4 linked regions of the Homo sapiens genome follow. The protein of the gene in region 3 purifies or fractionates together with the protein of the main gene of each other region. This does not show direct contact. Each region holds a gene or a part of one and is shown on either strand. Other genes may lie near its edges.

Region 1 (7,022 bases), on a different chromosome or scaffold from region 3:
GTTTACAAAATTGAGTGAGCAATGATGAAGGATAACAACCAGCCCGGCAAATTTGAACTCACGGGCATTCCTCCTAAACCCTTTGGATTTCCACAAATTTAAATAACTTTTTATATTGATGCCAACAGCATCTCAAATGTGTTTGCTGTTGATAAGAGATCAGGAAAAAAGAAGATTAAAAGACAAATGACCCAGTGTTTGCCCATGGAAACACTGAGTATTTGGTCCAAGAGGCATAGAAGTACAAAGCTGGAAAACGAGAAACAAAGAGACAGAGTTTCTTGTAAGAAGTTGCTCAGATCCTATGTATTCAATAGGCCACAGTGAAAAATGAGAGACGGCAAAGCAGAATCAAAGATGAAGTCAAACACAAGACTCCTGACAAGTGCAATGGAGTCATCAATGACTGGTCAAGAATCTCATTACTGAGAAGGAAGAATTTAACATCAGCCAAAAGAGCTGGAGAGGGTAAAAACCCTGCCGTTATCACAGTGTAACAGAGCTAGCACCATGCTAGGTGCTTTGCTAGGGACTTCCCTAGAAGTGGTTGCCCATCCTCTAGAGGTGTGTCTTCTGGAACCATGACTACAGAAACAGAATAAGGCAACCAAAACTCAACATGAAGTTTGAACATGAACACACAGTCATGAAATCCTACTCTGATTTGTAGGAAGTCAGTTTAGTGACAGTTTTTTTAAAAAATCATACTTGGGCTGCTATTTCATATATTATTAGACATTTTGAATATCTGAATATACACAGGGTAAGGAAATACAGTTGCACTTTATCCACATGATAAATAGGTAGAAAGTACAATTCATGATAGAGGACAAAGGCTTTTAAAGTTGGCATCACTAAAAAAATAAGAAAAACAGTGAGTCCAGACTACTTAACTTAGTGTAAGACTGTCCCTCCCCAGCCCCAATACATACCTACAACTTCCCATTTCCTATCACTGACAGCACTACTACCTTGAGACCACCGGAACTGGTTTCATTGTGTTCTTTATCCCTCTTTATATCATCAATACCAGAAGTCCCAAATTCCCCTTTTATACTTGTTTACTGCATTGTAATTCCCATAAGGCTCTGCACATTCCCTATTTTCTCCCACATCTTCTCCACCCCCTCAACTCCTGATATCCTTCCACTGTGCCCCTGGAACTCACAGTCTTTCACAATTCCATACAGCTTCAATATCTTCTCTGAATAGACCCTTCACCTCCTTGCTCTAACTAAAACCTGAATATTCCATGAGGATCCTGTTTCCTTTGTAGGCTTCTTAAGTGGTAGATGTTTTTCCCACATCAGTCTTCTAGTAAGCCTGGATGGAGTCTGTATCCTTCCTGAAACTCATTGCTACTTCCAGACTCTTTGCTCTCCCTCCTGTGTAAATTCTTCCCTCAGCTTTGAATCTCAGGCCATGAGACTCTGCCACCCTCTACCCCTTTTTCTTGCAGTCACCTACTAACTCTCAGATCATTTCTCCTCATTTCTTAAGGATCTTGGCATAATTCACTATTACTCTCATTAACACTACTCCTGTCTTAATTACTGATTTCAAAATCTACACAGATGTCCCTTTTAACATTTAGGCCCATCAGTTCCTTGAATTTTCTCCACCAGTGATATTTTCCTTGACACTATCTCAGCCAGTAATTCTAGGAGTTACACCCTACACTTTAGCAATATCAACAGTAAAAGCACTGAATAATCCTAGTTTCTAAACATTTCTACCTCTAACCTCCTACCTTTCCACTCACTCCTGCTAGTGCCTCAATTCCAACAATCCTTCAATCAATACTTGACCTACCATCCATTGATCATACTGCCATTCACCTCATATCCCCCGACCATATCCTTTGCCCAAGACTGTGGGAGCCCACCTCTTGCATCACTGTGACCTGGATGTGAACATGGAGTCAAAGGATATCATTTTAGAACTTTAAGACTGTCCCACTGGATTTTGGACTTGCATGGGGCCTGTAGCCCCTTTTATTTTGGACAATTTCTCTCATTTGGAACAGGTATATTTACCTAATGCCTGTACCCCCATTGTATCTAGGAAGTAACTAGCTTGCTTTTGATTTTACAGGCTCATAGGCAGAAGGGACTTACCTTGTCTCAGATGAGACTTTGGACGGTGGACTTTTGAGTTAATGCTGAAATAAGACTTTGGGGGACTGTCAGAAGGCATGATTCATTTTAAAATATGAGGACATGACGTTTGGGAAGGGTCAGGGGTGGAATGATATGGTTTGGCTGTGTCCCCACCCAAATCTTATCTTGAATTGTAGCTCCCATAATTCCCAATTCCCATGTATCATGGGTGAGACCTGGTAGGAGGTAATTGAATAATGGCAGTGGGTCTTTCCTGTGCTGTTCTCATGATGGTGAATAAGTCTCATGAGATCTGATGGTTTTATAATGGAGAGTTCCCCTGTACACATTCTCTCTTGCCTGACTTCATGTAAGACATCCCTTTGCTTTTCCTTTGTCTTCTGCCATGATTGTGAGGACTCCCCAGCCATGTGGAACTGTGAGTCCATTAAACCTCTTTCCTTTATAAATTACCCAGTCTCGGGTATGTCTTTATTAGCAATATGAGAACAGACTAATAAATCTTTCCTTAACTAGGTTAAATTTGATAGCAAATCATATAACCACTACCTTGAATACACCTTCAGTATACTTCACTTGCCCTTTCCTCACTTCATGGTGTTTGCTTGGCAAAACTCCCATCCATGTTAAATCCATTTTTTTTTTGCTTACACTGATATAACTGGCCATAGCTGAAGAAAGACACATACAGTCATAATTACTGTTTTAGGTTAGGTTCCCAATAAACAGATCATGAGAAAAAAAATTATATACAAGTGACTTATTAAGGAAATGTTTGGGGAACTAATAAGAAATTTGGGGAAGCAGGTCAAGAAAGGGGAGAAAGCTAAGCAAAGGTGTGATCTAAGACAAAGTCCCTTAGAGGGTAGCTTCAGCCTGATCTCACCAGTGTGTAGGTGGGGGTAAAGGTAATGGGGGAACTCTGCCGTGTCAAAGTTCAAAACATGTCTCTGAAGCAAGGATAATGAAAATTTCATACTTCTGAATCACTATTGGTTAAGGTCCACCTCAGGTACTACAACAGTAAGAGCAAAGGGTGCTCCAATAGCCTGAGGGCAGTTTACCAAAAAAAGAGGCATAGATGCTGTTTATTGGAAGCAAAAACCAACAAAGGCAGGACATGTACAGCAACACTAGAAAGGGATCCAAGAGGATCTGGACAAAGCATTAGTAATATCTACTGAAATATCTATTCTTGCTTCAAATTCATGACCTCAGCAAACCTCAAAGTGAACCACATCTGGCAATCATATTTCCTTAGCTCATTTATTCTCCCATTCTCTTGGATGGCTGTTTCATAATTCTCTCTCCTCAAACCTCAAACACTTTCTTCTCCATCTTCATTCTCAGCTAATTAATTACCTAGGTTCCTATTTCAACGAGCAAATAGGAGCAATCAGATGAGAACTTCCACAAGCTTACACTACTGTATCTACTGCATACAATAATCTGTACACATATATTCTGTCTTCCCTCCAAAGTCTGCAGAAGGACGTGCACATTTCTATCTAAGGGCAACCCCTTCTCTTGCATATTAGAGTCCTGCCTTCTTAAGGACTTCTTTCCAGGCCTCTCTCCTACACAAAATTTTCTCTTCTAGATTACTGTCATCAGCATACAAATATGATGTTATTTTTTAAAAAGCTTTCTCTTGACCTCACTTCCCCCCTACTTAAAACATTTCTATTTCCTTTCGTAGAAAAACTCCTCAAGAGATTACACGTCCTCCTCCTATCTTCTTAAACCCATTTCAATCAAGCTTTCATTCCCTTCTTTCCATTAATACTACTTTTTCAAGATCACTAATACAAACCATGGTTTTCCCCCACCTCTTTGGCCACTTCTTCTAAGACTCCTTTGTAGGTTTCTCTTAATTTGCTAACTTCTTAATATTGGGGTGCCTTGGACTCAGTCTCCAAACCTCCTTTTTATGTGAACTATTTTCTAAGTAAGACCTTCGATCTTATGTCTTTAAATATCTTCTTTTTGTCGATGGCTCTCAAATTTATATGTCTAGTCCAGATCTCTGCCCCGACCTCAAGACATAACCAACTGCTTACTATACATATCTACTTGGATGTCTAAAAGGCATCTTGAAACTTAACACTCCAAAACTGAGTTCCTCAAATTTCCCCCTCAAATCTGCTTTTCTATAGTCACCTACATTTCAGTTCACAATAACCCTATTCTTTCAGTTACCAAGGCAGAAATGAAATAATCTTCGTCTCTTCCTTTCCTAGCCCACATTTAATCAGTTAGTAAACCCTTCAAAATACAGTCATGCATTGCTTAATGACAGGGATGTGTTCTGGAAAATATGTTGTTAAGTGATTTTTGTCACGTGTAAACATCCTAGAGTGCACTTACACAAACCTAGATGGTATAGCCTATTATGCACTGATATATAATTATGTTTTATGATCATAAATGTCTCATAATGGAGTCACTTATGACAAGTGACTCAGCTTACAGTGAAATCACTGACCACTCAGAGTAGTAAGCATATGTGTGGTGGACTGAGGTGATAAGATAGCATCTGCTGTGGCCAGGCATCCCTGACACCTGACAAGAAAGTAAAGCCAAAAGTCAGCTGAAGATAATGGCCATGGAGATGTCTGTGGAGAGCCGTAAAAGCCAATCATGGCTGAGATGCCTGCAGAATCTCTGCCCATGAGAACTCTGAGGCCTCCTTTCCTTTGGCTGTGGTAAGCCCTCTGGGAAAAGAGCAGCTACCCACCACCAGGTCAGTGGGCATTCTGAGGAAAACCAAACCTGGTTTTCTCAGTCAGTGTGCTGGTCTCCCAGAATACTTGCTGTGTTTCCCTTCTCTATTAATGCCTATGTGTGTTGGATAGAGTTACATGATTGTTGTGTAGAAGCCACACAATAAATCGTGAATTCCTAAGCATTTAATTGGCACTGATTCGTTGTGAAACTTCTCAGCTGGTTGGAGTTAGCATAAATAGGCTGATTTGAACCCGATAGGACACACCTGAGCTCTGTGGTACAGCCTGCTGCTCCTAGGCTATAAACCTGTGCAGCATGTGACTGTACTGAATACTGCAGGCAATTAATTGTAACAAAATGATAAGCATTTGTGTATCTAAACACATTTAAACATAGAAAAGGTACAGTAAAAACACAGTATTATAATCTAATGGGACCACTGCCGTATATGCAGCCCGTCATTGACCAAAACGTCATTATGCAGCATGTGACTATATACTTACACTATGACCACTTCTTACCCATTCTACACTCCCACTCTGGTCTATGCCACTGATATCTCCCTGCTGGAACACTGTAATACATTGGTGTCCTTGCTTCTGCCCTTGGCCCCTTCAGTCAACTCTCAACACAAGAAGCAGAGATTCTGTTTTTTTTGTTGTTGTTGTTTGTTTGTTTGTTTAAAGATTACTTCCCTCCTCTGCTCAAGCATGTTTTAAGTCTCTCTCCATCTCAATTCAAAGTAAAAGCCAAAGTCTCTTTATTGCCTGACAGGGTCCCTGTTGCCCTTGCTTACACTACTTCAGGCATTTGGGCTGTGTTTCCTCAACACACTGGGCACACATCCCTTCCAGGGCCTTTGCATTAGCAGTCCCCTCTGTCTGGAACACTCTTTTCCTGGATATTTACATGGCTCACATTTTCATCCCCCTTCAAGTCTTTGCTGAATGCCGTGTGCTCGAGGAAATCTTCCTGCCCCACACCCAAACATTTCCTATTCTCTTTTCCTCCATGTTACATATCAACTTCTACATTGTAAAGTTCAGAAGCTGATTTTCCTGTCTGTCTTCTACAAATACAATGGAAGTTCCAGGGAGGCAAGATTATTGTTACATCCTCAGTGGTTGATACAGTGCCAGATACATATTAGGCACTCAGCTGCAAATCACAAGTTTTGTTGTATCAAGCTATATAATACTTTCATTATTGATTAATTCTAAATATTTTATCTTTCCAATAAGATTTAATTTTTGCAAATTTTAAAAGTAAATCTTGCAGATAAAAAGAGTATTTATGAAATTGGTAAGGCATGAGGAATAGTAATGCCACAAACACCATTTTCACTACCCGGAGAAAATTACTGTCTTTGAAACCCTGTATGTCCTTCCCCTTGAGTGACTACCATTCTGAATTTTATATTTATCATTCCCTTGAAGTTTATCTCTGTATATAATATACTGTTAATTTCTTCACGTTTTTCATTCTGTGTTATGTACAGCTGTAGCTGAATCATTTTCACTGTTGTATGCTACTCCATTATGTGAATATACTGCAATTTATTCATCCATTCTGTATCTATAGACATTGTGTTGTTTCCTGGATTTTTGCTATTACAAACAGTACAATGAACATCTTTGTAGATTGTCCCCTTATACTGTAGTACAAGAAAAGTCTCAGGAGTATGTATCTATGAGTAGAACTGCTAGGTCATAGGTCATGTGTATCTTCCCAACTTCATTTTTACAAGATCATGTTGAGTTATTTTTCAATAGCAGCTATACTAATTCACACCCCTATATGAGTCCCTGTTGCCCCATATCCTGATGCTTGATATTGTCAGATTTTTTTTTTTTTTGAGACGGAGTCTGCCTCTGACTCACCCAGACTGGAGTGCAGTGCTGTGATCTCAGCTCACTAAAGCCTCTGCCTCCCAGGTTCAAGCAATTCTCCTGCCTCAGCCTCCCGAGTAGCTGGGATTTACAGGTACCCACCACCACACCCAGCTAATTTCGTATTTTTAGTAGAGACGGGGTTTCACCATGTTGGCCAGGCTGGTCTCGAACTCGACCTCTGGTGATCCACCTGCTTCAGCCTCCCAAAGTGCTGGGATTACAGGCATGAGCCACTGCACCCAGTCTATTGTCAGATTTTTTAAAAGTCAATTTGGTGGTGTGA
Region 2 (7,682 bases), about 51 Mb from region 3:
ATTTACAGACTAGATTAACTGAGACTTGAGAGTTAAGTAACTCATTTAAAGTCAGCTGGGCATAGTGGCGCATGCCTGTAATCCCAGCACTTTGGGAGGCTGAGGTGGGTGGATGACCTGAGGTCAGGAGTTCCTGGCCAACATGGTGAAATCCCGTATCCACTAAAAATACAAAAATTAGGCCGGGCATGGTGGCTCACGCCTGTAATTCCAACACTTTGGGAGGCCAAAATGGGCAGATCATCTGAGGTCAGGAGTTCGAGACAGCCTGGTCAACATGGTGAAACCCTGTCTCTACTTAAAAAAAATACAAAAATTAGCCAGGCATGGTGGCAGGCACCTGTAATCCCAGCTACTTGGGAGGCTGAGGCAGGAGAATCACTTGAACCCGGGAGGCACTGCACTCCAGCCTGGGCAACAGAGCAAGATTCCGTCTCAGAAAAAAAAAAAAAAAAGAAAAGAAAAGAAAAGAAAAAGCCCAGCATGGTGGCATGCACCCAGCTACTTGGGAGATAGAGGCATGAGAATCGCTTGAACCCGGGAGGTGGAGGTTGCAGTGAGCCGAGATTGCGCCACTGCACTCCAACCTGGGTGACAGAGTGAGACTCTGTTTCAAAAACAAAAAAACAAAGTTATATGGCCTAGTAAACAGACAAACCGGTGATCCTTCTTTCTATTACTTCCACATAAGTAGCCAGAGAGAGAAAGCATGGACAAATGCATGAACTCTATAACAGCAGCCCTTGTTAAAGGAACCACTAAGTTGTTTCACACACAGGGAAAGTGGGCTTGTTCCTTTTTCTGCTACTACCTCTGCAAACTTCTGTGCTGCTTCTGCTTTGTTCCCTAACTTACTGGATGGAAGTTCCCCTTTCTCACTGCTAAGCTGAGAGAGGGAACTGCTAGCCCTCGCCTGGCCTGAGAGTACAGATCCATTACTGTGCATACATCATCCTGATGTCTGTGACCTCCTGCCTCTGCCTCTATCGTCAGTTCCTGTGCCTTTCCTGTGGCTGTCCCACTTTATGATCACATTTACGAACAGTTTCCTGATGAAGTAAATAAGGTATGTAGTGCTAGTTCCATTTTGGAGGTGAGTGAACTGAAGTACAGAAAAGTGATCCTCACATTAATAAGCAAGTTGGTATCAGAAGCCAAGCCAGAGCTCAGGTGTTTTGATTCACAGCCCTTTATAACCATTATCATTTTGAATGAAAAGTAAATCACTGTTTCTTAGTGATTTGGGCATGTTTCCTGAGTTAAGGGATCTGTCTGACATCCGTGGTAAGCCTTGTCTTAAGTGAATTGTGGGTAAAGACTTGTCCCAGATGGAGTGGGAGGACATGAAGGATGAGGAACTACCTTCAGGACCTTCCAGTCCATAGGCAGAGGTGGGGGAAATTCACAGAAAAACAAATGAGTTAAAGGGATACTGCAGTAGTGCTGGGAAATTCAGAGCTGTTTAAGACCTAGCATTCACCCCTGGTAGGAAAGGCAATCAAACACACATCTGACTGTCAGACTGACAAAGTTCTACAGCGGAAGAAAGAAAAGGGTGATTGTGAAATGAATAGACTTTCCACAGAGAAGCAGAATAACAGTGGAAGTGGGAGATACGCATTTTGGGGAAAGGAAAGAGCATGAAAAAAGAGGTAGAGGCACAAAGTACAAGGTGTGCTCAGAGAAGACTGGGACTTTGATGTGACTGGACTGGAGTGAAAGGTGCATGGAGTGGAGGGTTGGGAGGTGAAGATGAAGACAAGAAAGGGAAATTGGAGCCAGCCAGTGAAGCGCCTTCAATGGCAAGGGGTTTGACTAAAATCCACTGGGGTCTTATAAACAAGTATAGATGGAAACAGCTGTATGGTGCTATAAACACAATGCTGGGTGACTGAGGTGAGGGGGAGAGGGAGCTGGCTGCTGGGAGAAGCTGAGAAACCAGAGCTGAACAGCTTGTTTCTAGAAGGGCCTAGGCATAAGGTATGGTTTGGGAAATTGCCTTGGCCAAGGACCTTTTTGGAGCTGCAGATATTCTCTCCCAAGTTTAGTATCTGTGAAGATTGTTCTGGCCTAGCTAGGGAGGCGGACATCACAAGTGAGCTGAAGTCCAGAAGCAAAGAAAAGCACTTCTTCAGAGAAACAGGAGTGCACCATCTTTAGGGAGCTGGGATTCCGGGAGGGCCAGTTAAGGAGCCATGTGGGGAACAGGCTAGGAGGGGAGGAAGCTGTGTTTGGAGCTAGGGAATATCTCAGAGGCTCAAAGGCAATGAATGTTAAGGCCTCAGTGTGAAAAAAGCCCAGGCCATAGGATGACTCACTCCTTTATTTCCCAAGCTCTGTTCTGCGTAGACAATGAAACCTCACTGAGATTCTTGCTGGTATGGAGTGGGTGGAGGGATTGATGCCTAACTATAATCAGGGCCGACTTCCTAGCAGCAACAATACACCAGATGACCTGGAAATAGGGGAGGGTTGTAGAGTGAAGGGTGTGTTGCAGATGGGACTAGGGGACTAGCATAAAGGGACTAATGAACTGGTTTGCCTGGGCTGGGTGGAGGGCAAGGATTGCCACCTATTGGCTGCTGAGGTAGGTAGGTCTGCATTAAGCAGGATGCTCAAGAGACCTGGCCCAATGCAAGATACTATCTTTAAAACTATGTCAACATTTGCATCTTATCAGAAGATACATGACATTTATGTAGTTACATGGTGCTTGATTTTTGAGATTCATTTTATTCATTCTTGAGAGTCCATCAGCCTCAAAATCCCTAAGCGCCCCAAGACCAATTCAGTGGGCCATAAATGTAAACAGAATAGTTTAAGTCTGGGGTTAAGACCCCGGGAAGGCTGGGTTGGGGGGACTGTGGAGGCAATTACAGATTTTTACAGATTTTTGTTGATTTCTATCCCCTTGATTATAAAAGTTATGGGTATGTATTATAATTTCTAAAATGCAAATAAATATAAAGAAAATAAATATAACCCATAATTCCATCACTACAGATAATCATTGGTAAACTTGTTGGTGTGTTTCTTTTCTACCCATGTATATCACATAAGTAGGACCATACTGTGTATAGTGTTTTGCATCCATTCTTTTACCTAACTTTATATTGTAAACATTTCCACATCATTAAACATTTCTCCAAGAACAATTTTTAATGGCTGTATTTCATGGTATGAATATTACATAAACATTCCCCTATTGTTCGACCTTTAAAGTATCTAACTTTTCTATGCAATACACATTGTGGTGCTGAACAACTTTTTGCATACATATTTTTCTGGCAGCTCTTTTTAGAAAAACAACTTCCAGAAAGTTGATTACTGGGTCAAATAATAAGAACCTTTTTGAAAATTTTGATTCTATATTACCAGATGGCTTTCAGAAAGATTATATCAGTGTTCAAGGCCACCAGTAATGTGTTTGTGCACATGTACGTGTGTGTGTGTCTCCCATCTCACTAACTATACCCTTGCCAACCTGCATTAGCGTTTATTTTTTGGTTTTTTGTTTTTTAGTCTTTGCTATTTTGATTAGGTAAACCTGGTTATCTCTGTTCTCTTTTTAGTTTTATGGATTCTGTGTGAGGTGAAGAGGCCAAGTTTTTTTTAAGTTTGTTCAGGGAACAGTAGCCAGGGATCAATGGAAGTGGCACCAGATGCAGGTGGAGAAAAGGGTTCAGGGTCCAGAATCCAGCGTGGGGAGAGAAGAGGGAGGCAGAGTTTGGGAAGGATCTCTGCTGTGGGAGTGGTAAGAACTGGGAGGAGCCAGACAAACAGCATTAGAACAACTGGGTGTGGGGGGCAAAGGCCTCCCACAAGAGGGAAAATAGGGAAGAGATTAATTCCTGCTAATGCATTTAATTATATTCAGTGAAGTCTTAGGGACTTCCCTCCACAAGTTCCCTTTAGGTCGGATTATCTACCCCTTGGCAGTGGGGATGCTTGTTGGATAGACCCCAGAACGGCTGCAAGTGAATCAACCTGTGAGTGTCAATAGAGAACCAAGGCCAAGGCTAAAGCAATGGTAATACATGAATACTGAGTACTAACTACAGGCCAGGCACAGTTCTAAGCAGTTAACTTATATTAACTCATTTATCTTAACCACCATATAAAGCAGGTACTCTTACACTCATTTTACAGACGAAATAGAAGCACAGAGAAGTTAGGTAACTTGCCCAGTATCAGTCAGGAAGTAGGTGAAATCTGGATTTGAACCCAGACATTCTGGCTAGAGTTAAAGCTCTTAACCACCAAATACAGAAATGTGGGAAGGGGAGCCAGAATTGCAGGGCACAGCCTCCTACCTACGCCGGCCGGAAGAAAACAGACGACCAAGTGAGATTGCAGGGGCAGGACTTCTGCTTAAAATGAATCCTGGGACAATGATAACAGCTACCTTTCACTGGGCCCTCACTTCGTGCCAGGCACTGTGTAAAGGGACTTTACGTTTAATCTTCACAGTAACCCCTTTGAGTGAGGTACTGTCATTACCCCATCTTACTGATGAGGAAGCTGACGCACGGAACTGGCCCAAGACCCAGGGTCGGCTCAGGCCAGCCCTACCGCGGTGTGGTGGCTGCCCACGTGGCGCCCAGGAAGAGAAAAAAATGGCGAGGCGGGGTCGGCAGGCGGAGGCGGGGCCAGGCGGGGGCGGGGCCAAGGGCCGCAGAGCCTGGCGCGGAGCCGGCGAGATTTTGGTGGGGTCTCACCTGTTGCGTGACTCCCCCACAGTCCGGCCGCGGGAGTCCGACCCTGAATGCCCAGGGAGTGTTGAGAGAAATCTGGACGAGTTTCGGGTCCCGCTCCCTTGGGAGCACGTGGCCTACCAGCCTCTCGATTGCAGGGTTGGGTGGTCGCGACACCGGGGTCGCCTTGAGGCCAGTCCGGCTGCCGAGGTCTGCGGGAGTCCACCTCCGGCCAGCTGGCAATTTTGAAAGACTGCCTTACTTTCCCCATCTCAGTGCCAGGGCAGGGGCCCTTGGAGTGACTTGGCTGGGGTCTGTGGCCCGATCCCCCTGCCGTCCCTCAGGACCCGGGCTTTCTGCTGTACAGACTTCTCGTGGGCAGCCTCCCCTCGGAACTCGGGCATCATGGCCTCAGGTGAGTGTGTGTACGTGTGTTGGAGGGAGGGTCTCTGGGACAGAGAAGTGCTGTGGCCAGAGTGACAAGAGGGTGGGAGTCACAGCACAGCAGCAGGACCTAGGGAAGGCGGTCAGCTCCTCCCAGGAGGGCCTGGGGAGCAGAGCCAGAGTGTGCAGAGACAGAGGAAAAATCCAAAGAGGCTAGGGTCTCTGTCCCAGACCCCCAGACAAGGGGGTCTCCTGGCCTTCCTGCCTTCCTGGGAGGTAGCTATTTGGCGACGGTGGAATTTTCCCGGGACAGGCCCCTCCCTCCTGGGCTGGGATTCTCGGTTCTTCCCCCTCCTCCCAGAGCTGGGCTACCCCGGGAGCTGAGGGTCAGATGTGGAAGGAAAGTGGGTGCTGGGTTTTCACGGAGTATGCCTGCCCTGCCCCGGGAGGACTGTGTTTGAGCTTGGACTCGCTCGCTGCTGAATTCCTGTTTGTTATTCTTTTTTCTTCCAGGCTAGCTGGAAGGACCAGCTAGCCTGGACTTTGGCTTCTTTGCCCGGGAGCCCTGGCATGATGGGGTGAGGGCTCTTGGTGGGTTAGTGGAGAGCTGGGGGCTGGCCCTTCCCCATCTTCTTTTCTACCCACCCCCTCCCCGCCCCCCGCCAGGCCCAGCCACCATCAGTCACGTCACTCCTGGGACTGAGGAGGCAGGGGAGGGATAAGGGGCAGAGATGGAGGCCCCACTCCCCGAGGTTGCCTAGACAACATGAGAAATCGTGGCCAGGGCCTCTTCCGCCTGCGGAGCCGCTGCTTCCTGCATCAGTCACTCCCGCTGGGGGCGGGGCGGAGGAAGGGGTTGGATGTGGCAGAGCCAGGCCCCAGCCGGTGCCGCTCAGACTCCCCCGCTGTCGCCGCCGTGGTCCCAGCCATGGCATCCTATCCATCTGGCTCTGGCAAGCCCAAGGCCAAATATCCCTTTAAGAAGCGGGCCAGCCTGCAGGCCTCCACTGCAGCTCCAGGTGAGTGTGTGCTTCCTGGCCTCAGGATAGATGCTGGGCTCTGTCTTGCCACCTCTCGCCCAAGGTGCTGGTCCCCTCAGAGGGGGCCACCTCCTCCGGCATCCTCTCTGTGGTGGTGCCCCTCAACCTCAGTCCCAGGGACAGCCGGCTTGGAAGGTGGGGTGAGGGGTGGTGGGGGGCGGGGGGTGGATCTGAGATATCTGTGCCAGGGATGCTGTCCTCTGTCACAAGGAGTGGGCATGGTGTGGGTGCAGCAAGAGGTGTGTATGCACACGTGTCAGCGTGTGCATGTGCTAAGACTGCGTGTGAAGCATGTGTGAATGGAGCGGGGGTGTGTGGGACTGACTGTTTTGTGGACTGGCCACTCTGACTGGCGCCTGTGCCTTTACCAGGCAGGCTTAGGCTGTTCTGTGGCTAGTTCCACTTTTTAGGACCCCACATCTAGATCCCCCTCACTGGGGGTCTGACATCTGGGCACAACCATTGCTGGCTGGCATCCCACAACTGGGGGCTTGACTGTATCTATCGTTTGCTATTTGCTCATTCCTGGTCTATATTGTGAGCCTCCTTAGGAGTATGGGGTGTCCTTGGTCAGGTCCGTGCAGGGTTCAGGCTGGGGCTGCTGCCCGCACTGTGTGTGCTTCTGCACCCTTTGGTTCGTCTCTCACTCTAGTAAGCATCTCTGCATCATTTGGAGCAGGCAGTGAGGTGCGGCAGTGCCTGTCTCAGTGAGGGCTTGGCTGCCTGGCTCTGTGCTTGCAGAGGGATATCTGCCTGCTGTCTGCTCCCAGGCCTTGTGGCTAAGGAAAGACCCACCCTGACTTTGATGACCAGATCATGCCGACTGCCCCCACCCTTGCAGCTGTCTGTAGCTATAGCCCAAGTATCAACCTCCTATATTTTTTTGTTTCATTGAAGATGACTGGTGCAAGGTCTCTACTGTCCTGAGGGTGTTCTCTGTGCCCAGGTCTGTGCCATCCAGAAAGGGTGTCCCCTGGGTGGGGCCCTTCCTGGCCCTGTTTGGTTCAGCAATAGGGCAACTGATACGGATCTAGCCCAGAGCTGGAGACCCTTCGGTGGTCAGATGGTAAGAGCATCTGATACTTGTGGGGTCAAAGCCGTGGACACCCCTGTGCCTACTGAGGCAGTCGTGGCAGTGTGTGAGGGGCTCCTGGTCGAGAGGGGAGATGGGGTGCTCAGAATCTCAGAGTTGGTGGGAGTGGCTCTGGAGCAGCCCACTCTGGCTTTTGCTTGACTTCTCCGTAAGTGTGGGTGTATGTGTGTGGTGCTGACCCCTAGAGAAAGGACCAGTAGGCAGCTGAGTCTTCTAGGCCTGGCCTCTGAGAACGTAGCGGTTACTGCCCGTGTGCCACCTTCAGTGAGCCTGCGGCAGCCCTGGAGAGTGGTCTGGCAGGCTGGGGGGATGGCACTGGCTGTTGGAATCTGTCCTGCTCACCCCAGGATTGCTGTGGAGCCTGAGACCCCCCTGCTAGGAGAGGGGGTTGAGATTTGAGCCTTTGACTCAACTCCTGCTGACCCAATATGAACCAGCCATGGAGGTCTGTGGTCGGCCTCCCCTAGAAGG
Region 3 (7,022 bases):
AGTTGATTAGTTAAGAAGTATAATAAAAGCTTTGTTGTTGGGGGGCAGGCAGTCAGGCATCAGAGAAATTATTTTGTCAAAGATAATAAGATGGACTGAAATGAAGGAAAAGGAAAGAGAAACAAGTTTAAAAGCTATTATAGTTGCCAAGATAAGAAGTAATGAGGGGCTGTCTTGGGTTGATGGCAAAAGGAATTAAAAAGGGATCAACATGAGAATCGTTGTAAAGGTAGATAATGTTTAGCTCAATAAGCAGTTACAAAGCTGAGTTAAGAAGGACAAGTTCTTAGTCTGGCGCCCAGAGAAAATCAAGTGACACAAATGAGAAGCTGGCAGGTGGGATGAGAAATTATTCTGAATAAATTTAAAATCCAAGCCGACATGTTAGGAAGGTACTGACGAACAAATTTAAGTTTGGAACTTAAATAAAGTAAGGCCAGAGATACAGACTTGTGAATTATCTGTACAGAGAAACTTCAAAATCAAACACCTTGTAAATCATATCTCACTAAAACAAACAATTAGTTACCTAAGAAGGCTCTGGGAGAGGATGTTCAAGGGAAGAATCTTGAGGAATACCTACCCTTAGAGAAGAGAAAGGAGAGCAGAGAGAAAAATTGAGAAGAACGAATAATCAAAATTAAACCTCTGGAAGTCAAGAATAAAAAGGTTTCAAGGTGAGGATAGGCTGGGCGCAGTGACTCATGCCTGTAATCCCAGCACTTTGGGAGGCTGAGGCTGGAGGATCGCTTGAGTCCAGGAATTTGAGACCAACCTGGGCAACATCAGGAGACCCTGTCTCTAGAAAAAATTTAAAAATTAGGCTGCGCACAGTGGCTGACGTCTAAGTGACGCTGGTAATCCCAGCACTTTGGGAGGCTGAGGCGGGTGGATCACCTGAGGTCAGGAGTTTGAGACAAGCCTGGCCAACATGGTGAAACCCTGTCTCTACTAAAAATACAAAAATTAGCCACACGCGGTGGCATACGCCTGTGATTCCAGCTACTCAGGAGGCTGAGGCAGGAGAATCACTTGAACCTGGGAGGCAAAGGTTGCAGTGAGCCGAGATCGCACCATTGCACTCCAGCCTGTGCGACAGGGTGAGACTCCATCTCAAAAAAAAAAAAAAAAAAAAAAAAAAAAAATAGCAGGGTGTGGTGGTGTACACCTGTAGTCCCAGCTACTTGGGAGGCTGAAGTGGGAGGATCACTGGAGTCCCAGAGGTCGAGATTGCAGTGAACTGTGATGGGGTCACTGCACTCCAGCCTGGGTGACAGAGCAAGTCCCTGTCTCAGAAAAACAAACAAAAAAACCAAGAAGGTAAGGAGGATAGTCCATGCTTCCAAAAAAATACAGAGAACAGTATACTGTCAAAAGGCTGTAAGAGTCAGAACAGCTTTTCCCCTGGAATTATCTCAGAGATTGAATGGAATGCTGATTTTCTCTCCAGTAAAGAATCATAAAACACTAGGATTCAGCTATCTCTTAAATCTATAAAAATTATTTCCTGGGATGGGTGCGTGGCTCATGCCTGTAATCCCAACACTTTGGGAGGCCGAGGCAGGCGGATCATGAGGTCAGGAGTTTGAGACCAGCCTGGCCAACATGGTGAAGCTCCGTCTCTACTAAAAATACAAAAATAAGCTAGGTATGGTGGTGCATGCCTGTAATCCCAGCTACTGGGGAGACTGAGGCAGAAGAATCGCATGAAACTGGAAGGCAGAGGTTGCAATGAGCCAAGATTGTGCCACTGCACTCCAACCTGGGCCAAAGAACGAAACTCTGTCTCAAAAAAAAAAAAAAATTGTTTTCTTAAAAACTCATTAGCTTACCAATATAGCATAACTATGTCTAAACAATAAAAAAAGTTTGTATTCCTACTGTCATTTGAATAATTTATATACATATGTTTATAAGAAATATTTAATTCTACCTTTCAGCTTCATCTCTTGGCTTTGAAAAGCCCTGGTTTTTTTTTTGGCCAGGTACCATGGCTCACGCCTGTAATCCCCACACTTTAGGAGGCCGGGCCGGGTGGATCACGAGGTCAAGAGATCAAGACCATCTTGGCCAACATGGTAAAACCCCATTTCTACTAAAAATACAAAAATTAGCTGGGCATGGTGGCATGCGCCTGTAGTCTTAGCTACTCGGAGGCTGAGGCAGGAGGACTGCTTGAACCCGAGAGGGGAAGGTTTCAGTGAGCCAAGTCATGCCACTGCACTACAGCCTGGCGACAAAGCAAGACTCCATCTAAAAAAAAAAGAAAAAAGAAAAGTCCTATTTTTAAAGACAGCATGTGTTATGAAAGAAAGAAAAGGGCTTTGGTGTCAAACAGACCTGGGTTTGAATTCTACCTCTACCACCTGCTTTTGAGTTTTTCTTTTGTAAAATGGGATAATATTACCACCCTGCAGGAATTTAGAGGATTAAAAATAATGTATGCTAAGAGCCTGTTTGTACATAGTAGCCATTTATATTATTTTTCTAGTTTCCCATCTCTATACCAGACTACATTTCCTAGAAAATCCTGGACCTCTTTACCACTCAGCAATGATTCTCCAAACATCGTATATAATATAGGACACAGTCCCAAGTCTATGAAATCTGCTTACCCTTTCTGGCGTTTTAAAGAATTCAGAGAGCTCCGTTAATATCTTCTTTCAAGTATTCATGTTCTACGAACTGCAGTAAGACAATCTACCCAGGAACCCACAATATAAGCCTCCCTAAGTTTTTCTCCCTCTTTTAATTTTTAAAATAGATTTTTTTACTATTATTATCGTAGAGACGGAGTCTCACTATCTTGCCGCGTGGTCTCAAACTCCTGAGCTCAAGTAATCCTCCTACCTTGGCCTCCCAAAGTGCTGGGATTATAGGTATGTACCACCACACCTGGCCTCTTCTCCCTCTTGAAGGTTCTGAGGATACCCAAGATGGAAGACTGCAAAGCAATCACCATGGATAATGATGAGGATTCAAACTATGAATAAGGAACTTTGTTCCTTCTTTGAATTAATGCCTTCTCTCCCTATTGGTAACATAAAATGCCCAGTGTTTATAGTTTACTGGCTTTAATTATTGTTTTTTTATTTTTATTTTTTTGAGACAGGGTCTCACTCTGTCACCCAGGCTGGAGTACACTGGTGTGATATTGGGTCACTGCAACCTCTGCCTTCTGGGTTCAAGCAATTCTCCCGCCTCAGCCTCCCAAGTAGCTGGGACTACAGGTGCATGCCACTGCAGCTGGCTAATTTTTATATTTTTAGTAGACACAGGGTTTTGCTATGTTGGCTAGGCTGGTCTCAAACTCCTGACCTCAGGTGATCCGCCCGTCTCAGCCTCCCAAAATGCTGGGATTACAGATGTAAGCCACCGTGCATGGCCTCTGGCTTTAATTCTAATAACAGTATTTCAGACTATGTCAGGAATGCACTCTAACCCTTAAGTGTTAATTTCCAGCAGCAGAACTAAGCAAACTTTTTTTTTTTTTTTTTTTTTTTTTTTTAAGAGACAAGGTCTTGCTATGTTGCCAGCCTGAAACTCCTGGGCTCAAGCAGTCCTCCCAACTCAGCCCCCCGAGTAGTTGGGATTACAGGTACATGCCACTGCACCTGGCTAAGAGAACTTTCTATAAAAACATCCAGGACCATTTATCTCAGTTTAACTAATTCCTAGGGAAATCTACTTTTCATTTTGTTTCCATCTCAATTTACATTTACATCAGAAGTCTGTTGCCATTAACAGTTTTTGCCATTTATATTTCAAATTTTTCTTAAACTGGAGAGGATTTAAGATGAAAAAATGATGCTCCCAAGGTACAACTTACAATAAAACATTAAAGAGAGGCTTAAAACCTCAAGAAGTGCCTTCCTACAGGTTAGGTTAGAAGAAAGGGTCTAATGTTGGATTCTAAGTAAGGTTAACAAAACATACCTGGTAATGTGGCAATCATTAAAGTACACCAGAGGAATACAGTAACTTGACTACCATTAGAGGTAAACCCTATAGTAGCTTTCCAGATGGCTAAGAAAAAGCCAGGAAGAAAAAAAAAAATGGCACGTGAGGCAAATATGTATGCTTCACTTTAGAACTTGGCCAGACTTCCTTAAACAGTAACTTCAGAGGATAAACAGCAAATATCTAATCTAAAATGTTTGCATTGACCCAATCCACTAGACATACTATTAATACATTTCATTAATAAGATGACATCTTTGTCATATTAATTACTCCCCAATGCCCTATTGGCAACCTCAAGGCAGCCTCCGTTCATTAATTTATCTGTATCATAACACATTCCTGGGGTTAGATGGTACTTGAGAAATCTGGCTTCTGGCCCAGGAACTATGTCCTACAGAGGTAGAGATAAAAAAAAACTGCTGCAAAGAAGTGACTAATTCATAAAATTCATCACTCGCTAATTTTTGAAAAGCTTTCAAAGACTTTCTACTCACTCCAAGAGCAGAATGACTAAATCAATAAAGAGCAAGTAGCCTCCTTTTCTGACTGATTTTAACAGCAATGATGTTTCTTGGCTACATTTGTAAAAATAAAAGATGAAGTTTTTAATATTACTATAAAGCTAATCTAAAACTCACTGGCTTTTGGCTCTAAAATGAAAATATACAAAGTCACTACCCCATGCCTATTGCTGATTCAATTAATTCAGTTGCCTGTGTTCCAAATAGGTGAGGGTAAACAGCAGATTATCTTAGCTCACTGATAATCTGCTTTAAAAAAAAAAAAAGCTAATTCAATCTCAGAGACTTAAAAACTAACTCTAACACCAATGTTATGCAATAAAAAGTCTGGTTTGGATACCGTTATTTCTCTTTTATAATCTGGATATTTCCTAGACATGTTTAGAATAAACTTTTATACAGTAGAAATAATGGAGTAATGAATCTATCTACTGAAAGCATTTTAATAGTCACTTTATGATTTTAAAAGCCTATTACTCCCCTGATAGAATACAAGACTTAGAGCACGAAACTCAAGATCCCAGTCTTTCACAACAGGGTGCGCTTCTATACAATGTCTCCTACTAGAATCTGTTTGCTTTTAAAATGCCAGTATTGTTTTAAACTGGCAACAAAGAGGCTGCTTTCTTTCAGCTCTCTGTAGACAAGCTTCTGTCTTAGGTTGGTCCTACTCCACACTAAGGACCATGGCACTGGAACTGATTCTTTTTTTTGAGACTAGGTCTCGCTCTGTTGCCCATACTAAACTGCAGAGGCGCAATCTCAGCGCACTGCAGTGATCACTGCGCAATCTCAGCTCTACCTCCTGGACTCAAACAATCCTCCCACCTCAGCCTCCCAAGGAGATGGGACTGCAAGTACTTGCCCCATGCTTGGCTTTTTTTTTAAACTTTTTGTAGAGACAAGGTCTCAATATTGCCTAGGCTGGACTTGAACAACTAGGATCAAGTGATCCTCCCACCTTGGCCTCCCAAAAGTGCTGGGATTACAGCCATGAGCCAGCCGCACTCAGCCTGGCAGATTCTTATACATTTAATTGACTGCATTTAGCAGGGTGCAGTGGCTCACGCCTGTAATCCCAGCACTCTGGGAGGCTGAGGCAGGAGGATTGCTTGAGCCCAGGGGTTTGAAACCAGCCTGGGCAATATGGTGAAACCTCATCTTTACAAAAAATACAAAAATTAGCCAGGTACGGTGGCGTGCACCTGTAGTCCCAGCTACTCGAGAGGCTGAGATGGGAGAATCACCTAAGCCCAAGAGGTCGAGGTTGCAGTGAGCCATGATAGTGCCACTGCACTCTAGGTGACAGAGTGAGATCCTATTTCAAAAATAAATAAATAGACTGCACTTTAAGAGGTTGGTGGTGGGAACTAAAAGGTCACAAGCATTCTTAGCCTCCCACTCTAATCATCCTAGGAAATACTACCTAATAAGATGTCACAATTCTTAAGTAAACACCTAAAACCCTGGAAATATAAAAATATCTTCAAGCTGGGTGCTGCGGCTATGCCTGTAATCCCAGCACTTTGGGAGGCCAAGATGGGAGCATCACTTGAGCCGGGCAAGTAAGACCTCATCTCTTTAAAAAAACAAACAAACAAAAAAAAAACAACCAAAAATTAGCTAGGTATGGTGATATGCCCCTGCGGTCCCAGCTACTCAGCTGAGGTGGGAAGATCACTTGAGCCCAGGAGTTTGAGACCAGCCTAGGCAACAAAGTGAGACCCTATCTCTACAAAAATAAAAAAAACTTTAGAAAGATAAAAAGTTTACAGTGTGGTCCACAGACTAGAAATACTGATTTACTACATATAGATGTCACCTGGACATTCTTACCCAGCACATAAGGAAATAAACAGTCCAAGTTATCCCTCTTTCAAAGTATTTCCTTTTCTCCTCCCATCCTTTCCTTCACCCGACATGGATCTTCAGAGTTCATAAAAACACAAATGATACAAATGCAATCTCAACCCACCTCACCACCACCCTGGAGAATCCTTACCTTACAATGGAGAATTTAGACCCTGGATGATGGTAATGAAAAGTTCATCAAACCTAAAATGGTCACTGGTCTGAATGACACAGCTGCTTTCATTGTGATATTATCAGTACTTAATTTTCATGTGCCCTTGCCAAAAAGATACGAAAGAAAAGCCAACAAAAGGTTTAAAACTCTTCATCTGTGCTGTCATATTATTAAGACGGTCCAGCTGTGGAGCTGAAAAAAGAACTCTTTGGCCGGGCATGGTGGTTCACACCTGTAATCCTAGCACTTTGGGAGGCTGAGGCGGGCAGATCACAAGGTCAGGAGATTGAGACCACCCTGGCCAACATGGTGAAACCCCTCCTCTACTAAAAATACAAAAATTAGCTGGGCATGGTGGCGCATGCCTGTAATCCCAGCTACTCGGGAGGTTGAGGCAGGAGAATCGCTTGAACCAGGGAGTCGGAGGTTGCAGTGGGCTGAGATCGCGCCACAGCACCCCAGCCTGGTGACAGAGCAAGACTCGTCAAAAAACAAACAAACAAACAAAAAAA
Region 4 (7,853 bases), on a different chromosome or scaffold from region 3:
TAAATTTTGTTTTTATTATTGAGATTGAGTATATTTTGATGTATAGTGGACATTCATGTCTTCTCCAAAATGCTTATTCTTACTCTGTTCATTTTACAACTTTCGTTATCTTATTCTTATTGATTGTATGATACAGCCACTTAACACTTTGTCATATATATTTATATATTTCAATATATAATATATATATTTAATATACAACATATAAATATTTAAATATATATGACAAAGTGTTAAATGGCTATATCATACACAAACCTATTTATATTTATATTTTATATATATTTAAATATTTTTCTCTAATTTCCTTCTAAGAGAAGATTTCCCTCAAAATGTATGGGTTTATGTGGCTTTTCTTAATGCACAAAGGTTAAAATGTTTAAATTGTCAAATCTGTCAATGTTTTGTTTTTTATTTCTGACACTGGTGTCATCATATTCATTTTTTAGAAGATGGCAAAGTTTAAATCTCTTCAAGGAGTATGTATTAGTCCATTTTCACACTGCTATAAAGATACTACCTGAGACTAGGTAATTTGTAAAGGAAAGAGGCTCAATTGACTCACAGTTCCATATGGCTGGGGAAGCATCGGGAAACTTACGCTCATGGCAGAAAGTGAAGAGGAGGCAAGAACCTTCTTCACATGGTGGCAAGAGAGAGAAGTGCAAGCAGGGGAAATGCTAGACGCTTATAAAACCATCAGATCTCATGAGAACTCACTCACTATCATGAGAACAGCATGGAGGAAACTGCCCCCATGACCCAATCACCTCCCTCCATGAACACATGGGGATTACAATTTGAGATGAGATTTGGATGGGGACACAGAGCCAAACTGCCAAATCATATCAGAGTAGTTAGTTGTCATTCAGGTAAAATCTCAATCCCTCAGTCTCTGTTGCATACCACATTCTATTCTCACCATATTCAGCCAAATTAACATCCCACAACTTCTAAAAGCAAACTGTGTTTTGGTGAGCTTAGTTTCTTGTATGTTTTGATGCATGGGCTCTGGAGTATTGTAAAGAAAAAGTTTAGGATTCTGACTCAACCAATTATCAACAGTATGAGAAGAGCTTTTTGGGCTTCAGCTTCATATTTAAGTGGGCTCAGAACTAATGTGAGATTAAGTTATGTGTAACAAACAACAAAGCTTAAAATACAGTTGGCACTTAATGAATATCAGTTCTCCAGCCATCCCTCCATGTTTTTGCTTATCCTGGGAAATCTTTCTGTGACATCATTGTCCGCTTCTCCACCTTGCAATACTTTATCTACCCTTCTGGGCCAGTTTTATCCAGACTCCTTCACAAAGGTTTCCATAGAACAGAGAGCTTACTATGCATCTTACACAGTTTGGGTGTCTTTTATTTTAATGTTTCAGTCATGTTTCATGAGCCAAACTGTAAGGTTCAGGAATGTTTGTCTTAATGCTTGGCACTTGAATGCACCCAATAAATAGTTGTTGAATGTATAAATAAACAAAAGGTACACGGGATGGGAAATACTGGAAAATTGGACATATATTGTAATAAGACTAGCTAACAATTTGCATTTAAAAATTAGCCAAATTATTGTGCTTGGGACACAAAATTTGTGACCAATGTGAATTTGTTTAGTAAATGTAGCCATATATATCTTGCGTTGTACCATTGAATATTCTAATAGTTCAATATACCATTGGAATATACCAGCGGAAAATATCATTACAAATAGTTTGACATACTGTATTTCTTCAATTTTAAGAATAATTTGGTACCACATTTTAATTTCTTTGAAACTGGGATGTGTCTTACTATCAAATAAACATCCAGTGGCCAGGTGATAGTGATGATATAGTTGGCATTGCCTATTTTTGAACATGGGCATAAATGAATTGTTATCATTTCTACTAAATTCTATGAAATTTAGTCCTGTTGTGTCAAAGCCATATGCCAAGAAACATAGTTGAAGGCAGGAGAAATTACCAGATATGACAGATTAGGTGAAAGAAATTCTAAAGCAAAGAGAGGTTGATATAACCAATTCATGTATCATGCAGGACTATGGTTAAGGCATGAAACTACCATTTGTGAGAAACTTTCTCCTGGCCATTAATAGAGAAGCTGCATAGCTTGTAGTGACATACAATTCAGTTGAACAAGAAAACTATGTGTTTAGTCAAATGGGATAGTGCCAGCATCACAACTGCAGAATGAGTGTCATTGTCTAGGAGGCAAATCCCAGAAACAAGATTGGAACATCCTTTTAAGAAATGGTGCACTATCAACAATATTGTGTGGAAAAACACACATGAATGCTTTTCATGAAAAGGTATTCAGAAGAATCAGGCTCAATGTTCGGGACTTTGGTAAATTCATTTTGCTTATATTTTCCTTTCCTACATACACACAGTACTAAGCAAATCTATGTATAAGTGTCTAAAAGCACTAAGTATAAAGTAAAAATTCGATATGACATAACATATTGTCATAGTTTTATTAGCAGCTCTTTTCCTTTCTTTTGAGTGGAACATATAATTGAAGATAGGTTAGATTTGAATAGATAACAATAAATTGAATAGGCACTAGGTCTGTGAGTTTGTAAACTTCCCTCAGTGAAGGACCAGAGCTTGGTGTTTTGTTGTTGTTTTGGTAGGTATTTTGTTGTCTGTTGGAAATGAGGTAAGAAGATCCTATGAAGTCGTCACAAATATTGGTTATACTTGTTTGTAGAAGCAACATAATTTCAAGAAAAGCCACCTTCTCACATCACCTTTTACAGCTTCTTAACATAGGTCACAGGTTGCATTTTGAATTAGGTGAATACTCCATTTGTCAGTCGGTAACCACTTCTGAAATTAATTTATTATATTTCCCCAATATAACAGCAATACATGTTGGTATAGAAAACACCTTATATTAAAAAAAAAGTCTATGTACCTACATGTGAGTATGTAATCAGCCATGTCTTCCACCCAATGTGGAAAATTTCTTTCTTAAAAATTTTCTTAGGCCAGGAGCGGTGGCTCACACCTGCAATTCCCAGCACTTTGGGAGGCCAAGGTGGGTGGATCACCTGAAATTGGGAGTTCGAGACCACCCTGACCAACATGGAGAAACCCTGTCTCTACTAAAAATACAAAATTAGCCGCGCGTGGTGGTACATGCCTGTAATCCCAGCTACTCGGGAGGCTGAGGCAGGAGAATTGCTTGAACCCTGAAGGCGGAGGTTGCGGTGAGCCGAGATCGCATCATTGGACTCCAGCCTGGGCAACAAGAGCAAAACTCCGTCTAAAAAAAAAAAAGTTTCTTATACATTTTTCGATGCCGTTTCTTTTTTTCTTTGTTTATGAAAATGTCTCAGATCAAAGTAATATATCTTCATTGTCCAGGATATTTCGTTAAGTATAGAAAAATATAAAGCAGCATGAAACATACTATCCTTCATCTCACCACCCAGAGATCACATCTTAATATTTTTGGCCATTGCATTCAATCTAGGGCAAAAACAGGCAGCATAACTTGCACACAGTGGATGCTCACTGCATCCCTGCTGAATGCATGAATGCAGAAAGAGAACTTGGAGAAGGGCCCATTTGTCTTGCTAATAGAATCAATTATACAGCTCTTATGGTCTAAAATTATTTGTCTTCTCAAGTTTGCCTCATTATTGTCACACAGCAGGAGCCTGGCCAAGACACAGCCATCTTTCTACTATTTGACAACCAAGCACTTTGGAAGGAATGGTCACTGTTTTCACTTCATTCCTGTCATTCATTCTCTCACTCATTAAATAAATATTAAGTGCCCACCATGTGCCGGAAATACGGAGAAGAAAAAAAAACATGACCCCTGCCCTCATGCAAATTACTGTGTAAAGACAAAAGACAATAAACATAAACACATAAATATATATATATACAAAATTTTATAAGTGCAAAAATAGAAGAGAACAAGTGGCTGGGAAAATAAACGGGGCAATGGTATAATTAAGGAGGGGACAGGGAAGGCCTTTCTGACGCAGTGACAAGTCGGGTCAAGAAGGAACGAAAGGGAAGGTTATGAGGCTGTCAAACTTTGAGTGTGGCCAAAAAAATAATGAAGAAAGTGATGGAGGAAAGACTAGGCTGAAGAAGTAGGGCAGTAGTGAAGTGTCTTGTAAGCCATGCTAAGGATTTTGAGTTTTATTCTATGTACTGTTGGAAACCAATACTTTTTTTGTAGTGTAAATTGAGCTTATTTTTCACAGATAGGTTTCAAGATGCAAAGCATACAAGGACCAAAAATAATTATATGAAAACTCTCCCTCCCTCCGGTTTCCTAGCCACCCAGTTTCCCTCTTCAGAGCTGCCAGTCTTTCCTACGGAAAGACTCTAGGCACAAACAAGCCCATCTATCTGTTTATATTATAATGCATTTTCAGCACTGGGACGAGCCCATCTGATTTAAGACCACCTGAATGCTGAGAGGGCATGACTCTGCGTTAGAACTCTGCGCTACTGCCCACGCATCTCACAAAGTCTACTACGCCGCGCGTTCTCGGTTTCAACGCACCTCCAGGATTCAGGGCTTCCTAAGCTGCAATTCAGCAGGGCTCCCTTGCTTGTTCTCACTCTGTGCCCCCGGCAACGACCCCGCGCGCCTACACTCCCGTGCCGCCTCAGCTACTAGTCCGCAACTTCTAGCCCCAAAACGCTGGAGCTCAGAACCCAGCTCAGGTGCGCTCGTCGGTTTCCCAGGGAGACTGGGGCTGATTGTAGGCACGCGGGGGCGGGAAGACAGCTTCTTGCTTCTGGCTGCGATGGAGGCGGATCTGGGCGGGGCCGAAACGGGGGCGGGGCCAAGTGTGGGGGCGTAGTCAGGCGTGGGGGCGGGCCGGCGCCGGCGCCGCGGTCGGCGGCAGCGCTCTCCTAAGCTCTCGCGGCTGCGCTTCGGTCCCGGACCCGGGCCACCCACGGGGTAGTGGGTGCTCCTCGGCCCCGGACATTGCAAGCCCCAGAAGGTAAATTTGCGTGGGAGCCGCGCACCTGGAGCGCGAGGGTACCCATGATGAGGGCGGGAGGCTGGATGGCGACAGAAGGGAGCGTCCCGCGGCGAGTTTCCCAAGAAAGCTGAACTCGTCCCAAGTTTCTTGTGCCTCGGCTTGCACTCAGTGAATGGGTGGCGGGCTCATTTGCTGCGGGTGGTCTTTTGGCGCGGGAGGGACGCGGAGGTGATTGGATTAATCCGCCTGGGCGGCAGCCCAGATTTCTGCCGGGAACCGCGCACCGCAGTGGTGCAGTTTTTGCCCGAGAAAGGGCGGGTAAGTGCGGTGCAGTCGTGTCCTGCGCAGCAGCAGGGGGACCGCCGGTCTGGGAGCACGCGAGTCGGCCAGGCGTCCCCGGTTGTCCAGAGGCACAGTTTCCTAACTTCTTTCCTCTTTAGGCAAGACTAACTCGGTGTTGCTCCTCCCGGCGCTGACTTCGAGGCCCGGCTATGGACGGCGAGAGCGAGGTGGATTTTTCTAGCAACAGCATAACCCCTTTGTGGCGGAGGCGGTCGATTCCTCAGCCCCACCAGGTTCTGGGCCGGAGCAAGCCGAGGCCCCAGTCCTACCAGAGCCCCAACGGGTTACTAATTACGGATTTCCCGGTGGAGGACGGAGGGACGCTCCTCGCAGCGCAGATTCCCGCCCAGGTGCCCACCGCCTCGGACAGCAGGACGGTACATAGGAGCCCCCTGCTTCTGGGCGCCCAGCGGAGAGCGGTGGCCAATGGTGGGACGGCATCCCCGGAGTACAGGGCTGCCTCTCCTCGACTTCGACGGCCCAAGTCACCCAAGCTCCCCAAAGCGGTGCCTGGCGGCTCCCCGAAATCCCCAGCAAATGGCGCGGTGACCTTGCCTGCGCCGCCGCCGCCGCCGGTTCTGCGCCCCCCGCGGACTCCTAACGCGCCCGCCCCCTGCACCCCCGAGGAGGACCTTACTGGGTTGACTGCCAGCCCGGTGCCTTCGCCCACTGCAAATGGCCTTGCCGCTAATAACGACTCTCCTGGGTCAGGTTCGCAGTCCGGCCGGAAGGCAAAGGACCCCGAACGGGGGCTCTTTCCTGGGCCCCAGAAAAGTTCTTCGGAACAAAAACTCCCCCTCCAAAGGCTGCCCTCCCAGGAGAACGAGCTCCTCGAGAATCCTTCCGTGGTTTTGAGTACAAACAGCCCCGCCGCCCTCAAAGTGGGGAAGCAGCAGATCATTCCGAAGAGTCTGGCCTCGGAAATTAAAATAAGTAAATCCAACAATCAAAATGTGGAGCCCCACAAGAGACTCCTCAAGGTGCGCAGCATGGTGGAGGGCCTAGGAGGACCCCTGGGTCACGCAGGGGAGGAGAGTGAGGTCGATAACGACGTGGATAGCCCAGGGTCTCTGCGGAGAGGCTTGCGGTCCACGTCTTATCGCAGGGCAGTGGTCAGTGGCTTTGATTTTGACAGTCCTACCAGCTCGAAGAAGAAGAACAGAATGTCCCAGCCTGTTCTGAAAGTGGTGATGGAAGACAAGGAGAAGTTTTCCAGTCTGGGAAGGATAAAGGTAAAAGTGGGCAGGAGTGTGGCACGCCATTCACTAAGCGGAAAGTAAATGTGTTGGGAGTGGGGAGGAGGAGCGTAGAGGAAACCCGAAGAAGTCATTCCGTTTTAATTCTGTGTTTTGCTCTTGATTGCTAGTGTACATCCAGCTCTTGGCCACTTTGATGCTGGCAGGCACAGCCGAGTTTAGTGCAACTTTGTGGGAAGAAGTGAAATTCATCACTTTTAAATTTCTAAGCTCAGGCAGAATTGGGGGGGACAAGAGTGAAATATGGCAGATTATTGGCTGAGTGAGTCTTTACCACTTTTAAAAGAGATAGCTGAAAGGGGGAGGAGCATGTTCAGAACCGCACTCTGCAGTCAAGTTGTCTGGAGTTTGCTTAGAGGTTTCAGTCAATGATAGCTGTTATCACAGCTGATTCAGAAAAATACTGATTCCTGTTTGAGCCTGTTGATTATTTTTTGCTTTTACTTACTGAATTTTGAGTGGTTACTACGCACTTGATGTCATTCAGGTAGAATGTGAATTTGAAAATCAGTTGCCAGGATCACAAAAGACATAAATATTTTGTCATCTTTTTTGTTGCTTGTTTTTGTCACCGTGGCCTTTGGTTGTGTTTTATTCCCGTTGTATGCCCATTCATCCTTGAGTGCATGTAACAGATTGGCAGCTGAAAACTTAAGGTTAGGGTGGACACTGTGTGGTATTGCTCCCCTATATTGTCCCATTAGCTGCACTTATTAAAATATTGTCAAATATGACATAAAGAAACAGGGAAAACTGAAGAGGGGTATTTTGGAGTGTGTGCTTCCTTCCACAGAAACAACACAGGTTTCAGCAATAAGGCAGATTCTTTTTGGCAGCCACATTTTTTCTTGGTTAATCAGAGCACTGGAACCAGTCTATATAAATGGCACATATGCAAAACACAAGCAAGCCTGTTTTATTTTAGAGCCCGTGGTCTTAAAGAAAATAAATTACATAACATTTTATGTGTTTTTTCCAACTCTGCAAGTATAGCAAAGTTCAATTTAACAGTGATGGTGAATCACGAGTTGTAAAATGAGCTGACCTGCTAGTTATTTGAGGATTCTCAATCTGTTTTGACAGGGTGTGGGGGATCTTGTACATTTTATTTCATTGTTTCAGTGAATTGTAGTGATCAAATGAGTGAACTCCTCCAGGGCTCAGCTTCTGTGCGCTCTTGGAAATCTAATTAATGTAATGACTAAAAAAAAGTATTTTTACTTAAAATAGCTGTATTTTCTATTTGGCTCATTCATACATAGTTTGCTTTTCCTTTTTTTTTTTTTTTTT

The links.
Region 1: the proteins of DCAF8 (region 3) and ACAD11 purify together in Homo sapiens (co-immunoprecipitation; 3 studies listed by BioGRID and IntAct, with this or other methods). This does not show direct contact.
Region 2: the proteins of DCAF8 (region 3) and AMPD2 purify together in Homo sapiens (co-immunoprecipitation; 3 studies listed by BioGRID and IntAct, with this or other methods). This does not show direct contact.
Region 4: the proteins of DCAF8 (region 3) and ARHGEF26 purify together in Homo sapiens (affinity purification with mass spectrometry; 2 studies listed by BioGRID and IntAct, with this or other methods). This does not show direct contact.

The regions. Positions count from the first base shown.
Region 1 is NC_000003.12:132,649,808-132,656,829, forward strand, and holds part of ACAD11 (acyl-CoA dehydrogenase family member 11), read right to left. Parts: intron 4,864-7,022; exon of another isoform or gene 4,623-4,863; intron 1-4,622. UniProt on the Homo sapiens protein: Acyl-CoA dehydrogenase, that exhibits maximal activity towards saturated C22-CoA.
Region 2 is NC_000001.11:109,615,170-109,622,851, forward strand, and holds the start of AMPD2 (AMP deaminase 2), read left to right. Parts: upstream 1-4,667; 5' UTR 4,668-5,099; coding exon of another isoform or gene 5,100-5,109; intron 5,110-5,744; 5' UTR 5,745-5,938; coding exon of another isoform or gene 5,939-6,006; coding exon 6,007-6,097; intron 6,098-7,682. UniProt on the Homo sapiens protein: AMP deaminase plays a critical role in energy metabolism. Catalyzes the deamination of AMP to IMP and plays an important role in the purine nucleotide cycle.
Region 3 is NC_000001.11:160,252,533-160,259,554, forward strand, and holds part of DCAF8 (DDB1- and CUL4-associated factor 8), read right to left. Parts: intron 1-7,022. UniProt on the Homo sapiens protein: May function as a substrate receptor for CUL4-DDB1 E3 ubiquitin-protein ligase complex.
Region 4 is NC_000003.12:154,116,537-154,124,389, forward strand, and holds the start of ARHGEF26 (rho guanine nucleotide exchange factor 26), read left to right. Parts: upstream 1-4,853; 5' UTR 4,854-4,983; intron 4,984-5,405; 5' UTR 5,406-5,456; coding exon 5,457-6,539; intron 6,540-7,853. UniProt on the Homo sapiens protein: Activates RhoG GTPase by promoting the exchange of GDP by GTP. Required for the formation of membrane ruffles during macropinocytosis. Required for the formation of cup-like structures during trans-endothelial migration of leukocytes.